Regions from separate parts of the Homo sapiens genome. Here region 2 is linked to region 1. Evidence: fine-mapped expression QTL. Tissue or cell type: whole blood. Region 1 holds a variant in brackets; the other region holds the start of a gene. All regions are shown on one strand. Distances are between the middles of the regions.

Region 1 (8,105 bases):
GATCATTATGATATGCAAATCAAATCACAGTCACTCCCCTACTTAAATCCTTGGTGGTTCCCCATTACCCTAATGGAAAGTAGAAATTTTTTTTTTTTTTGGAAATTTTTTAACTTCTTTCTTTTTTGGCGTGGTCCTCTAATCTCTGAGACCTCATCTCTTGCCATTTGCTGCCTGAAACTCTCTGCTCCTTATAGACTGTGGTAATAATAAAATAAATACTTGGCCTTTGTTTCTGGTTCTCGGCACAGAGCTCCTAAAATGCTGGGAATTTCCTGAAAGATAGGAATATCTTTTGTAATTTATTAGGAGCCCCTTTCCATCATACTTGAGTTTATGCTAATGAGGTGAGTTACGGTAGCATCTCAGGATGGGACTGGCACCAGAAAGACCAAGTAATAAGAGGATGGAAACTTGGCTAGGTGCAGTGGCTCACACCTGTAATCCTAACACTTTGGGAGGCTGAGGTGGACAGATCACTTGAGCCCAGGGGTTTGAGACAAGTCTGTGCAACATGGCAAAAACCCATCTCTGCAGAAGAATACAAAAATTAGGCTGCGTGTGGTGGCTCACACCTGTAATCCCAGCACTTTGGGAGGCCGAGGCAGGCAGATCACGAGGTCAGGAGTTCGAGACCATCCTGGCTAACATGGTAAAACCCCGTCTCTACTAAAAATACAAAAAATTAGCCAGGCAAGGTGGCGGGCGCCTGTAGTCCCAGCTACTCAGGAGGCTGAGGCAGGAGAATGGCATGAACCCGGAAAGTGGAGCTTGCAGTGTGCCGAGATCATGCCACTGCACTCCAGCCTGGGTGACGGGGGGAGACTCGTCTCAAAAAAAAAAGAATACAAAAATTAATCGGGCGTGCTGGTGCACACCTGTAGTCCTAGCTATTTGGGAGGCTGAGAGATAAGAAGATCGCTTGAGCCCAGGAGGTCAAGGCTGCAGTGAGCTGTGATCGTCCAGCCTGGCAACAGAGTATGACCCTGTAAAAGAGGATGGAAACTTTTCATTGGAATAACATACAAGAAAAAAAAAAGAGGGTGGAAACTTTCAGCCCCACCCATTGACCTCAAAGTTGGGGAGGGGGGACTGGAGATAGAGCTATATAAAACTTTTGTTACTATTTTTATTTTATTTATCTATTTTTTTTGAGACAGAGTCTCACTCTGTTGCCCAGGCTGGAGTGCAGTGGTGTGATCTTGGTTCACTGCAACCTCCGCCTCCTGGGTTCAAGCAATTCTCCCACATCAGCTTCTGTAATAGCTGGGATTACAGGCACACACCACCACACCCGGCTAATTTTTGAATTTTTACTAGAGACAGGGTTTCACTATGCTAGCCAGGCTAGTCTTGAATGCCTAACTTTAAGTGAACTGCACACCTGGGCCTCCCAAAGTGCTGAGATTACAGGTGTGAGCCACCACACCCAGCCTTAATTTTTTTTAGAGACAGGGTCTCACTCTGTCACCCAGGCTGTAGTGCAGTGGCATGATCATAGCTCACTCTTAGCCTCATTGAACTCTGGGACTCAAGAGATCCTCCCACCTCAGCCTCCTGAGTACCTGGAACTACAGTTATATGCCACCACACTCGGCTAATATTTTTACTTTTATTTATGTATTTATGTATTTATTTATTTATTTATTTATTTTTGTGATGGAGTTTCACTCTTGTTGCCCAGGCTGGAGTGCAATGGCATGATCTTAGCTCACCACAACCTCCACCTCTGGGATTCAAGTGATTCTCCTGCCTCCACCTCCCAAGTAGCTGGGATTACAGGCATCCGCCACCATGCCCGGCTAATTTTTTGTATTTTTCTCCATGTTGGTCAGGCTGGTCTCAAACTCCCTACCTTAGGTAATCCACCCAATTCAGCCTCCCAAAGTGCTGGGATTACAGGCATGAGCCACTGCGCCCAGCCTACTTTTATTTTTTTATAGAGACAGGGTCTCACTGTGATGCCCAGGTTGGTCTTGAACTCCTTGCCTCAAGTGAACCTCCCACCTTGGCCTCATAAAGTGCTGGGATTACAAGCATGAGCCACTGCCCTATACACCTTTTTATTTTTTTGAGATGAAGTCTCGCTGTGTCACCCAGGCTGGAGTACAGTGGCACGATCTCAGCTCACTGCAACATCCACCTCCTGGGCTCAAGAGTTTCTGATGCCTCAGCCTCCCAAGTAGCTGGGATTATGGGCGTCCGCCATCATGCCTGGCTAATTTTTATATTTTTAGTAGACACAAGGTTTTGCCATGTTGGCCAGGCTGGTCTTGAACTACTGACCTCAAGTGATCTGCCTGCCTCGGCCTCCCAAAGTGCTAGGATTACAGGTGTGAACCGCCTCGCCCGGCCTCTATATAACTTTTGAACAGAAAGTTTCTGAGAGCTTCTGAGTTGGTGAATGCACCCCAACTACCCAGGGCCAGAAGCTCCCGCACTCAGGACCCTTGCAGACCTGGCCTATGTACCTTCTCATCTGGCTGTTCATTTGTATGCTTTAGGATATCCTTTATAACAAACACTTACTTAAAACTATAAGTAAAGTGCCTTTCTGAGTTCTGCAAGCCATTCTAGCAAATTAACAAACCTGAGGAGGGGTTCATGGGAAGCCCTGATTTACAGCCAGTTGGTCAGAAGTACAGGTGGTCTGAGATTTGGGACTGGCGTCTGAAGTGGGGGCAGTCTTATGCAACTGAGCCCTTAAGCTGTGGGGTCCACACTAACTCTGGGTAGTTAGTGTCAGAATTGAATTGAATTGCTAGGTACCCAGCTGGTGTCGGGGAATTGGTTGATGTCAAAAAACATCCCAGACAGACCTACTTTTTGTTTTCGTTTGCTTTTCTGATTTCCTGAGCTGTGTCCAGGGACTGTCTTGCCTCCTGGTCTTCGTATAGCACATTCCTTCTGCATGGATCACCTGCCTACTCTCTTGGTCTGGCAAATTTCATCTTATCTTTCAGGTCTCAGGTTCAGTGCCACCTCCCAAGAAACATCCTTTACATCACTAGAATAGGTCAGAACCTACACCTCAGTAATCCCATAGCATCCTCGATTTCCCCATCCCAACATTCATCACACTTCACCATTGTTACTGATATAATCATCTGTATTCCCCAACAGTGAAGGCAGCTCTGTAAGCCATTGAGAGATGGACCATGTCTGTCCTGTTCTCCATTGTATCCAGCATCTGGCACAGTGCCTAGTAGGTCATAGGCACTCAGTAAGTATGTACTGAGTTCAGAATGAATGAATAAATGAATGTCGTAGGAATTCAGAAGAAACAAGAGATTAATATAGACTGAGGAAAGAGGTAGGCTAGGACTTGAATAACAAGTAGAGGAGCTTCCACTGTCACCTAATACATTAGGGACAAACCACGTCTTCCTACCTCCAACCCAGGAGGCAACTACAAAAACAGAAAGAGCATTGAACTACGAGACCGAAGAACAAGCTCCGGTCCTGCCTCTGTGCCTCAGTGTGTAACTTTGAACATATCATTCAACTTCTGAGCCTGAGTTTCCTCGTCTGTAAAATGAAGCCGCTATAGCCCACCTAGAGGGGTTTCTCTGAGGTTTGGTGAGGTCCTGAATGTAGTAGACCCCCGCACAAAGTAGACCTGACCAGATGTGTGTGGATTTATTTTCAGCCACATAGCCTCTGTCTCTAAGATTTCCCAAAGCACTGGCTGAAAGCCCACCTGAGAAAAGCCTGCATCTGTCAACCCAGCTTCCTGGACCTGAGCACACTCATTCTGCCCAGGCTGATGTGCCATCTTGCCCCTCTTCCCCAACACCAGCACACAGCACCCAAAGCCTTCCTCACACCCAAGAGAACCACGCTCTGAGGACTACCACCTGCAAGAGCCGAAGACTTGAAGGCATTTACCTCCCACAAGGGGGTAACATACTTTCCTCTATCAATTTCTGAGTAAAGAATATTTTCAGGGCCGGGCACAGTGGTTCACGCTTATAATCCCAGCACTTTGGGAGTCCAATGTGGGCAGATCACCTGAGGTCAGGAGTTTGAGACCAGCTTGGCCAACATGGTAAAACCCCACCTCTACTAAAAATACAAAAATTAGCCAGGTGTGGTGGTGGTCACCTGTAATCTCAGCTACTTGGGAGGCTGAGGCAGGAGAATCGCTTGAACCTGGGAGGTACAGGTTGCAGTGAGTCGAGATCATGCCACTGCACTCCAGCCTGGGCGACAGAGCGAGACTCTGTCTCAAAAAAAAAAAAAAGAAAAGAAAAAGAAAATTTTCAAAATGAAATTCTCCAGAATTTTTACTCTCCACTTTAATTCCTGGTGTCAGACAGCAGGACCCTCACGTTCCCCTGGCAACAGAGTTTATTAGGCACCCACAGTGCCAGGGCTGTGCTGGCACCCCAACTCCTCATGGAGATTACAAACTAGCTGGGGGGGGGGGTGTGGCAGGCCCCCAACAATGCCCATGCACTTATCCCTGAAACCTGTGAATTTATCTGTTACACGGCAAAAAGGGTCTTTGTGGATATAATTGAGGTTTTGAACCTTAAAATAGAGCCATG[T/C]CCTGCTTTGCTCAGGTGGGGTCAATCTGGGGTCAATCAGATCACATGAGCCCTTAAAAGCAGAGAACTTTGTGTAGCTGGAATCAGAGACTCAAGTCAGTGGGTGGGTGAGGTGGCTTACACCTACAATCCCAGCACTTTGGGAGGCCAAGGTAGGTGGATCACTTGAGGCCAGGAGTTCGAGACCAGCCTGCCCAACATGGCAAAACCCCGTCTCTACCAAAAATACAAAAATTAGCCAGGCGTAGTGGCACATGCCTGTAGTTTCAGCTACTCAGGAGGCTGAGTTGAGGCAGGAGAATCGCCTGAACCCAGGAGGCAGAGATTGCAGTGAGCTAATATAGTGCCACTGCACTCCAGCCTGGGTAACAGAGTGAGACTCCATCTCAACAAAAAAAAAAAAAAAAAAGAAGAAGAAGAAAAAGGAGGTGGAGGAGGAGGAAACCAGAGATTCAGAGCATGAGGGGTACTCAACTCACTATTGCTGGGATGGGTGGGGACATGAAAAATGTGAGAAAGAATGAAGGCAGCCTCTAGGAGTAAAGATACCCCCAGCTGACCACCAGGGAGGAAACAGGATCCTCAGTCCTACAACCACAAGAAACTGAGTTCTACCAACCCGAGTGAGCTTGGAAGTAGATTCTCCCCTAGAACCTCCAGATAAAAGCCTAGTCCTGCTGACACTTTGGTTTCAGCCTTATGAGACCCCTAAACAGAAAACCCAGCCTAGCTTCCCTAGGTACAGGTTGAACCTGGGAGGTACAGGTTGCAGTGAGTCGAGATCATGCCACTGCACTCCAGCCTGGGCGACAGAGCGAGACTCTGTCTCAAAAAAAAAAAAAAGAAAAGAAAAGAAAAAGAAAAAGAATATTTTCAAAATTAAATTCTCCAGAATTTTTACTCTCCACTTTAATTCCTGGTGTCAGACAGCAGGACCCCCAAGTTCCCCTGTCAACAGAGTTTATTGACCCATAGAGCTGCCCGAGATTGCGCCATTGCACATTGCACTCCAGCCTGGGCAACAAGAGCGAAACTCCAGCACAAAAAAAAAAAAAAAAAAAGTCAGAATGGAGGCATAGGAAGGGAAATAGAAAGGGGATGGCTTTGAGTCAGACACAGCTGGGTACTAACCCTTCCTCCAGCAGCTTGCACAGGTTTCTTTAGCTTTCTGAGATTTAGTTTCAAACCCAAAAAATAAAGAGATGATAAAAAGGACCTATATCACAAAGGGCTGTGAAGAAACAGAAGGCAGGTTATTTATTGATCATCACACCACATGAGGAAAAATACATTCCATACTATATTTTCCAATTCAAAAGCCCTGATTTTTCCCACTTTAACATCTTCGAATCATTCAACCATGCAGCAGTCCTGAGATACTTCTATTGCTTGCACTTGCAAAATCAGTGTTACTGGTTAGGAAGAAAATTCCAAAAGCAAAAATGAAGCATCCTATTAAGAAATGCTGGCCGGGCACAGTGGCTCAAGTCTGCAATCCCAGCACTTTGGGAGGTTGAAGTGAGCAGATCACTTGAGGTCAGGAGTTCAAGACCAGCCTGGCCAACATGGTGAAACCCCCATCTCCACTAAAAATACAAAAAAAAAAAATTAGCCAGGTGTAGTGGCACACGCCTATAATCCCAGCTACTCGGGAGGCTGAGGGGGGAGAATCGCTTGAACCTGGGAGGCAGAGGTTGCAGGAAGCCAAATCTCGCCACTGTGCTCCAGCCTGGGCAACAGAGCGAGATTCAGTCTTAAAAAAAAAAAAAAAACAAATGAAATGCTGCCTCTTCAACCTCTTGCTAACACTGAGTACAATCTTGTATCAAAAAACACAGACATCAATGATGCTGAGCCATGGTGATGCAGAAGAGCCAGAATCTAATTGTGGAGAAGTCTTAGGAGTGTCATAACCAATTTATTTTGCCTATATTTGTTTTTTATGTGCACACAAGAGAGACATAGGATAAAAGAAAATCTGTCTAAATAAGTCTAAAAGAGCCCTTCAATAAGTACAAAAACTTCTTAAAAATTTCAAGTGATAAAAAGATGCTGAGAAAATACAGGCATTATTTATTATGCCCAGCTGACTTCCAGGAAAATCAAGGTCTAGGGAATATTCACAGTGTGGCCAAGGCCTTACAGCAACAAACAGCTGAACTGAGAAAAATGAAGCAAATGGTCTCAGGCCTACCACAGAGGCCAGTTTGGTGTGGCTGGCATCTATCAGCTGTGTCCTAAATTCTTCACAAGGAGCCTGAGAAATGTGACCTTAGCCCACCAGAGGTATTACACTTCAGTTTTGTCCGCTGAGATTATGCGTTTGCACATACACACAACATTCAAAGCAGAGGAATTGGTTGAGAAATGTAAAAACACTAGGAAGAACAACATTCCGAGGAAAATAATAAAGCCACTTGCATTTGTCCCTCAAGGGCAAAGGTTGAGCAGATATGTTTGCAGGCCCTTATAAAAGATTGGGGTTTCCTAAGCCCAGGGTTCATTGGCTGGAATGCAAATTCACTGTATGCATAGCATCCACTGACTACTGTGGTATGAGTTATAAGGTTCTTTGTCTTTGACCCAGGATGCACAAGTTCAGAGTCTTTCTTTTTTTTTTCTTTACTTTTTATACCATCAATAGAGGCAGACAAAAAAATCTTGAGTCTTCTACTAGCATCAAATTGTGGCAGGCTAATTTGTATGCTTGCAAGTACAGTATTACCTCAGAACCTTCATGGTTCTTGTTAACTACGTGAAGTTTTCTTTTTGTTTGTTTATTTCTTTTTTTTTTTTTTTTCTGAGACAGAGTCTCACTCTGTCGCCCAGGCTGGAACGCAGTGGCACAATCTCGGCTCACTGCAACTTCCACCTCCTGGGTTCAAGTGATTCTCGTGTCTCAGCCTCCCAAGGAGCTGGGATTACAGGTGTGCACCACCACGCCCAGCTAGTTTTTGTATTTTTAGTAGAGATTGGGTTTCGCCATGTTGACCAGGCTAGTCTCAAAATCCTGACCTCAAGTGATCCGCCTGCCTCGGCCTCCCAAAGTGTGGAATTACAGGTGTGAGCCACTACACCTGGCCTATGTGAAGTTTGATACCATTATTTGGAGTTAGACTGTGATAATTTAAAGATGTATATGGTAAACTCTAGAGCAATCATTCAAAAGTAAAATATAGATAGAGCTAATAAGCCAAAAGTAGGGATAAAATGAAATCATTAAAGTATTTTATGAATTAAAAAGGAAGTCAAAAAAAAGGAAAAAGGGACAAAGAATAGTAGGGACAAATAGAAAACAAATAGCAAAATGGTGTATTTAAATACAACCATATTTATAGTTACATTAAATAAAAGTGGCCCAAACTCTCCAATTAAAAGGCAGAAATGTCAGATTGTATAAAAATCTACCTGAATAAGCTCTAAATATACTGCATAGGTAGGTTAAGAGTAAAAGAATAGAAAAAATATATATGAAGCAAACACTAATCATGAAAAAAGCTGAAATGGATGTATCGATTTGTGCACAGTGAACTTTAGGAGAAAGGATTATAAGCA
Region 2 (8,105 bases), 81 kb after region 1:
AACCCCCATCGGGGCTCATAGCACAACTGGGGGTCCCCAAAGCCGGCTCCCCCTGCCTCCTCCGCGCGGGAGGCCGTCGGGGTGATGGCGCAAGACTCCGCTCCCCCCGCCCCCCACAGCGACAACAGCCACGGTGACAAAATGGCAGCCCGGCGCCCGGCAGTCGTGCCACAGGCGCGCAGGGCCCTGGAGGCGGCTCCTGCCCCCCAGTAACGCCTCGGCGCCCTTCGGGCTCAGCCCCGAGTGGGCCTAGCCGTTAAAAAAAATAAATAAATAAAAATAAATAAATAAAACACCTGGAACTCAAAACCAGCCTAGAAAGCCACAAGGCCGGCCCCGCGCGTACTGCACCCCCGCCGCCCGCCTGCCAGCGCCCCGCGCCACATGGAGCCCGGAGCCCGCATTCCGAGCCCTGCGCCCCGCGCCGGGGAGGAGGGGCGGGGCGTGCGGCGCGAGCCCCGGGAAACATGGCTGCTCGTCCTATTTCGGCGTCGCGGCATGGCCACCAGCTCCCGGAGCCCAGTTGGGAGAGGTGCCGAAGGTGGGTGTGTGGGGGGCCCAGGGGCAGCGCGGCGGGGAGGGGCGCAGGGGGCGCGCTCCGGGAGCCATTTGTCTTAAGAACGTTTAAAAAAATACAGTTCCTCCTCCCCCAACCCTTTTGTCCCTCTTTCGCTAGCTTTCTCCCCCTCCCCCGCAAATGTGCAGAAAGTGCCCCCTCCTCCGCCACCCGCGCCCCACCCCGCCTCCAGGCAGGGGGCAGGCGTGTGGGCCGCGAGGCTGGGAGGCGAGGGGGCGAAGCGTGAGAAATCGCTCCCAGTACGGCGCGGTGCGCTCCCCTCCCCAACACACACACACACTCGTGGAAGTTTAAAGAGCCGGTTCGACCCGCTTTCCTGCTTGCTCCCGGGGGGCCGGCAGCGTCGGTCGGGTTCGCCAGGCCAGCCGCGCCCCCGCACCCACCCGCGGCGACCCCGGCCCCGCGCTTGGCGCCCTTCCCCCTCCGCGCAGGGGGCTTCCGGAAAGTACGCGGGAAGACCGCGGCCCCGGCCCCCTCCCCCATCACCACACCCAGCCCCCAAACGCTAGGCGCCGGGTCCCGGCCGGGACGAAAGCGGCCGGAGAGAGGCAAACCGCCCGCAAATAGTGCGCGGAAACTCCGGCCTCCACCGGCGGCGCCCCCTCCTCTCCCGCGGCCGCCCCCTCCCCGCCCTGCGCGCCATAAGGCACTCGCACGTCTCCAGTCCACAGCTGCGTTAAGGCGGGGAGGGGGTAGACAAAAAGGATCTTGTTTTCAAAAGTCTCACTCAGGTTTGGGGGAGGAACTAGGGAAAAGAGGAAGCGAGGCCTGCCTTCGCCGGGATTCGGGTTTAACGGGCTAGAGGGGCGACAGGCCAGCGCACGGTGCTGCCCAAACTCCCAACTCCATGGAGCTCGGGCCACCGAGACTGGGGGCGTCCTCCCGCCAGCGCGTCCCCGGTCCCCCCAAGGGGCCAAGAGGGGAGCTGGCCAGGGTCTCCGCCCCAGAGCCGCCAACTCGCCGAAAACACTCAGGTTTGAAAGCGAGAGGGAGGCAGAAATAAAAACCAGCGTTCGAGTCACCCACCCTCACCTTCCCCCTCCTCAGGGGTAAGCTTTCGCTCGAGCCTCGCGATTCCCACCCGTGTAAGTTTCCTCCGGCCGTGCTCCCGCCGCTGCCCAATCAATAACGGCGGCTAGCGGGCAAACTCCCATCCTAGAGCTGCGTGTTTGCCATGCCCGCATAAACGTGGACCCAGCCAGTACCCACCACGGGCGCCAGCTCCGGGCAGCTCGCGTCCTGACAAAGTTTCCCGTGCCCATTTATTAAGCAGGCGCCGAATGGCTGCCGACAAGCCCAGCACTGAGAAAGACGGGCCGGGGGTTCGAGCTGGGGGGCACCAGGGCCCAAAGGCTGGCATCTTGGGGAAGCCGGAAGGAGCTGGGGCGAGGGGGCACCGGGACGTAGCCTTTGGGCAACTTGCACCAGCGATCGCTGGAGGCAGGGAGACGCGGGGATTATCTGTGCCTTAGCACGTTCGAAAATCCCTCCCCCTCCTTCTAATTTATCCTCCCTTCGGAAGGAAAGGAAGAAACATCAGCATCTGGCCCGAAGGTGGGGTGGAAAGAGTGAGGGAGAAAGAGGAGGAGAGGAAGGGAGGCAGAGAAAGGGAGGGAGGGAGAGAAAGGGCGCGTTCACGAACACTACAAAGTTACAAATATGGCTCCCCCGTCTCTCGCCTCATCACTGCAAAGAAATGAAGACGCACTTTAAACTCCAGCCATTCCCAACTCCGCTGCAGCCCCCTCCCCACGCGCTCTCCCCGGGGGCCTCGGCCCACATTTATCAGAAACTAAACCGGACTCGCGAAGCCCCAAACTTATTGTGTGTGCGAGCGAGCGAGCGAGAGAAAGGGAGGGGGGAGGCGCGGGAGGGGGGCGGAAGGGGGGATACATTTATAAAATGTAAAACCCCCTTTTTTTGTTGTTAAATCCAGGAGGCAGCCCCTCTCCTCCTCCTCCCTCGTTAATCTTCCCCCCAGACGGAGTCACGGGAGCAGCGATCTCCGAGGGTGATTTCGCCTCATTCTCTCCGACCCAAACGCGTGCGCCCGCCGGCCCCCGATGGGTGCACACTCGCACGCACACTCTCGCACCCACACTCGCACACGCGGGAGCACACGCACAGGTAGTCACACACCAAGGGCAGCGGCGGCGGCAGCCGGAACATGCTCGGATGGCATTGCAACCCCCCAGCCTTGCCAATTCGCTTGCAGTCCGACCCCCAAACCCGCACCTCCCGGGCGCCCCCCCCCAAAAAAAGTGCCTCCCCCCAGCGCGCACACACACACACACACACAAAGTAGGAGAATGGACCGACAGAGATATTTTTGGCAAATGCTCACATCAGAGGGCGTCCTGTTCCGCAGCTCTAAATGAATCCGTCTGCCCATCTCCATCTCTCGCGCTCTCTCTCTGCAGAGGCTCCCGCGCCGGCGGAATTCAATCAATAAACCCCGAACCCACGGCCGCGCGTTTTAGGACTTTGAAGGCTCAACCAGCTCCGCTCGGTTCTCGAGCCCCCAGCACCCGCGGCGCACACTAACCTGATCGCCGTGGAGGCGGGATCTGCGGCCCCATGGACGAGCGGCAGCGGCCCGAGCCAATCGCCGCCGAGGGTCTCCGGGCAACAGCCAATGGCAGTGGCGGCGGGGGGGGGAAGGGACCAATGGGCGGGCTGCGCAGCCGGCCAGGGAGGCTCGGCCATTTGGTAGTGGTGCCGGAGACGGACCCCTTTAGATTTCGGGGCGGCTGAGGAGCGCGGCGGCTGCTCTGTGGCTGAGTGAGGGGGGTGGGCGGAATGGCGGGGGAAGGGAAGGTGACTGTGCCTCGAGGGCCGAGCCGCCCGGCCTTGCCAGCCAGCCGCCGCCTCAGCGTTCGGCCGGGGGCGGGGCCGCAGGTGCGTTCTGCGAGGGGGAGGGGCGCGGCCGGAGGGGTCGGGTCGGGGTCCCCGCCCGGCCGAGGGCTTCGCGGGGCGGCGCGACGGGGTTGCGGAAGGAGGCGGGCGGCTTGAGGTCCGGGGACCGCGGGCTGCCCAGCGGGAGGGCAGATGAAAGGCCTGGAAGGAGGAGAGGGGTCAGGGTGCAATGCCGGGAGGGGCTCGTCGGGTCCCGGGTCCGGCGGCTCGCGCTGGGGAGCGTGGCTGCCCCCGTCACCCCCACCGCGGCTGCCCAGCAGCCCGCGCGCCCCTTCCCCTCCGGCCTCGTCCCTGTCAGGCCGCCACCATCGCCACCCTCGTATACATAAGTCAGTAAAAGCAAGATGCTTCCACTTTTGGATGACTTACCGCGCGGTCGCGACCCTTCCCACGAAGAGGCTTTTCACTTTGCTGTCATATTAGGTCAGCTTGGAAGAAGTGATCACCAAGAGACACCCAAGATCTTGTTTAGGCAATAAATGAATGAAGACCATGGATTAAGAACCGTTGCTAGATATGTAGAATATTAAAAGGTGGAAAAGGAAGGTGCTCATAACTCCTGGTTTTCTGGACCAAACATAATTTCTGGGCTTTATAGACCTAGTGAAAGAGAACGGCGCACGGTTTATTCTAATCGTCCACCTGAGTCATTCGGTTCGGTTTGGGTTGCCAAGGAGGCTCTAACTGGAGCCCTTTCTCCTGGTTTTTCGGCGTGGTTGCCTTGGGTATTTTTGAATCACATTAAGTTTTAAGAGACCTTAAAGCCCCGATGCCCACTGGGTTACCGACTTACGGCACTAAGTTGGCTGCCTGTGGCTGTTAATAAACCACGGGGATTGTTGTCAACGAGGACAGATACATCCTTACCTTTCCACACGACTGTATTTTAGTGTTTGTTTCTACATGTCTGCACTCTTCCCCACACGCCTCAAGGTAGTTTTTCTGGATACATATGTTTATTTTTCAGGAACAGGAGTTCAAAGGAGAGATAAGCCAGTATGTATGTTGCAAAGTTAAAATACTGTTGCATAATAGCAATCCAGTTTCATTCTTAGACATACGAAGTTGAGGAGGAAATAAAAAGTGACAATGTAAATAAAACACATACAGAATGCTTACACTGGGGAAGAAGCTGTAGTAACTTTAATATTGCAACCTGATGGATTGCAAGTGTAAAGCCCTGCAACTAAGGATTTTACTCAGTAAATTCTTTCAGATAAAATGATAAATGGAATTTGAAGTCTGATGTTTACTCTGATTAGGTGGGAAATGCACCATAAAAGTTAGAAGTCATTGTTTTATTTTATCTGGGTATAAATAGTATAATTTATTTAACTTGTTGACTTGCCTGTCATCCTCAGATTTTGTTAATCTTATTGAAGCCTATTTGTATAGTTGGAATTTATTCTAAGTTTTATTGGCTTCTTTGTAATACATGAGGAACCCCAAATTTCCTATTTATGCCATTGAGACAGTTGTTATTTCTGGATATGGTGTTTAGGATTGTATTCAAACAGAACTCTTATCAAAACAGGTCAATATGGTGTGTATGATCTGTGTAACATAGGAGTCCTGAAGTTTGTGTTCTCTTTGATGGTAAATGTTCATTTTCAATTTAAAAGTTTAACCACAGTTAAGACCACGCTGCTAGCAATGCAATATGAGACAGTGTCTTTCCAGAGGAGTAATCCCTTAAAAACCAACCAATCAAATGCAGAGATATGCCCCATCCAGCTTTGCTAAATAGAAGCAAATAGCTCACTTTATTGTACAAAGACTCAAGAGGAAGACTTAGAAGCCCACCCCCTCCCCCATTAAAGAGAAAGTACAGAAACAAATTAGAATCGAAAAAATCATGGCCTGATTACTAAATCAAAACGTTAAATGTGACAGTTGTTTTTAGAAGCATCTTACATTTATACATTTTGATGACTTTTGTATTAATGTTAGAAAATTGAAAGAAGGCTTCACTGGATGTCAGTCGTTACAGAAATTGAAATATCCAAAAGTATATGTATAACCAATTGAGTAATTTCCGCTTTCCTTACACACTTGAAATAAATTTTCTTTTGCTTTTACAAATAGATCTATATGTAAGAAAATTTTCATATGATTTTGCTTTTTTATTATTAAAAAAGGAATATAGTAAAGCCAAAGCTGAGCTGTATTTGCCCCACACAACATGACCAAATATAAAAAAAACCACTGCTCTTACAAATATCTTATTTTACAAAGTTGTTTTTTAAATTACATTTTATTGTATATTATAATAGTAAATAAGTGTTCTAAGTGGCACTGCATTTCAGAAAATATAGAAAGAAATCCCATATCAAGGAATCTTGGCTGAATTTTGAAACGGAGTTGGGAACAGGTAAGAGTTCCTATCTACTGAGTAATTCTACAACAGGAATTGTGTTTGAAAGATGTAGAGTCTCTAACCTCTGAAACTAGGTTTGAGTCACACTGAGAAGAATAAATGAGATACAATTCAAAGTTTAACCCCCTAGAGAGATAGATGGCCCAGGAAGGAAAGATCTTCCCGCCTTCCAGAATATCCTCCATCAAGAACCATTCCAAATAAATGAGCAGCCTATTTTGTTCTCAAAGACATGAACAATGAGTGTCCTTAGGCTCTTTTGAAATGTGTAGGAGAGTACTGTTTTACAAATAACCATATCGTTACTATTGCCATTTTATTAGGTTGGTGCAAAAGTAATTACCATTTTTTTTAAAAAAGGCAAAACCACAATTACTTTTGCACCAATAGCACATTTGCCCTTGTTTGGTCTCTAAAGATGGAGACCCTTTGGTTAGCATCCTTTTTATGAGTCAAGCTAATATACCCACAGCTCAACTTTTTGTTCTTGAGCTTGAATCACATCACTGGCAATCGGCCGTAGTACTCTCTTACCTACATCATGGTTCTGCTGCTTGGACCCCAAAGACAATGACATGGAAAAACTCCAGCTTAATTATGTTCTTTTTTGTTTGTATATGTAAATAGTTTTTAGGAATGTAGATTATTATTTTGAAATCTGTGGTAACAAATGTGAAAACCACTACATTTTATTTATTTTCATTGAATAGCAAATAATGTTGAAGCCTGGGATCTAAAAAGTTAAATATTATTTTATTTTGCTTAATAAAGTATTGGATAATTTAGAAAAAGAATTTTTTTTTAATGATTGGATAGTTACCTTATTAATGGATTGGTCAGGGAGAAAAAGCCCTGTTGGATGAAAACTGTCATATATGTGACTTTTAAAGTGAAATTAATAAGCCAGGCATGGTGATGTTCCCCTGTAGGCCCAGCTACTTGGGAGGCTGAAGTGAAAGGATCACTTGAGCCCAAGAGTTCAAGAACAGCTCGGACAACATAGCAAGACCTGTTTCTCTAAAAACAAAAAACAGTAAAAATCTTAAAAACCGCTTAAAGATGGTTGGTTTCTTTTAAAAAGGAAAAAAAGGCTCAGGTGCAGTGGCTCACGCCTGTAATCCCAACACTTTGGGAAGCTGCAGGCAGATAGCTTGAGCTCAGGAGTTCGAGACCAGCCTGGGCAACATGGTGAAACCCCATCTTTACCAAAAATGAAAAAAAAAAAAAAAAATTAGCCTGGCATGGTGGCGTGCACCTGTGGTCCCAGCTACAATAGAGGCTGAGGTGGGAGGATCCCTTGAGCCCGGGAGGTGGAGATTGCAGTGAGTAGAGATCACGCCTCGGCACTCCAGCCTGGGCAACATAGCCAGATACTGTCTCATTAAAAAAAAAAAAAAAAAGGCCGGGCGCGGTGGCTCATGCCTGTAATCCCAGCACTTTGGGAGGCCGAGGTGGGCGGATCACGTGGTCAGGAGATGGAGACCATCCTGGCTAACACGGTGAAACCCCGTCTCTATTAAAAATACAAAAAATTAGCCGGGTGAGGTGGCGCACGCCTGTAGTCCCAGCTACTCGGGAGGCTGAGGCAGGAGAATGGCGTGAACCCGGAAGGCGGAGCTTGCAGTGAGCAGAGATCACTCCATTGCACTCCAGCCTGGGCGACAGAACGAGACTCCGTCTCAAAAAAAAAAAAAAAAAAAAGCCAGGTATGGTGGCTCACGCCTGTAATCCCAGCACTTTGGGAGGCCAAGGCGGGTGGATCACCTGAAGTCAGGAGTTCGAGACCAGCCTGGCCAACATGGTGAAATGCCATCTCTACTAAAAATACAAAAAAAAAAAAAAAAAAAAAAAGCCGGGCTTCGTGGCACGTGCCTATAATCCCAGCTACTCGGGAGGCAGAGGCGGGAGACTTACTTGAACCCGGGAGGCAGAGGTTGCCATGTGCCAAAATCGCACCATTGCACTCCAGCCTGGGCAACAAGAGTGAAACTCCATCTCAAAAAAAAAAAAAAAAAAATCACTTGCACACTTGTTTGGAAGTCTCTAGAAATTTTGTGAATCGGTTTCTTAAATATATTTATTAAAGACAGTTTTGAAGTAGCAATGAGGGAAGTTTGTTTACCATTCATCAGGAAGAAAACCAGAGCTGTAAGCTCTTACTTTTAGTATTAAAATATGGCTGTGAAGGAAAAAAATAAATGCCTTAAAGACAAATAATGGAATGAGGAGCTATAG

Evidence for each region. PIP is the estimated chance that this variant, and not a neighbour inherited with it, causes the effect.
Region 2: it holds the start of ANP32A, and the variant in region 1 is fine-mapped to the expression of ANP32A in whole blood (INTERVAL, PIP 0.98).

What each region holds. Positions count from the first base shown.
Region 1 is chr15:68,736,693-68,744,797 of GRCh38, forward strand. No RefSeq gene overlaps it. Among named protein-coding and RNA genes, the nearest start is that of MIR4312, 61 kb to the right of the region's middle. The variant T/C (reference allele first, on the strand shown) is at 4,551.
Region 2 is chr15:68,817,777-68,825,881 of GRCh38, forward strand. It overlaps ANP32A (acidic nuclear phosphoprotein 32 family member A), which reads right to left and starts at 3,119. Exons shown (of 7, transcript NM_006305.4): 1 at 2,922-3,119. The coding sequence starts at 2,975. RefSeq lists enhancers at 1-71, 1,236-1,817, 1,818-2,399, 5,681-6,481 and silencers at 1-140, 351-910, 961-1,200, 1,461-1,570, 3,071-3,320 and 2 more.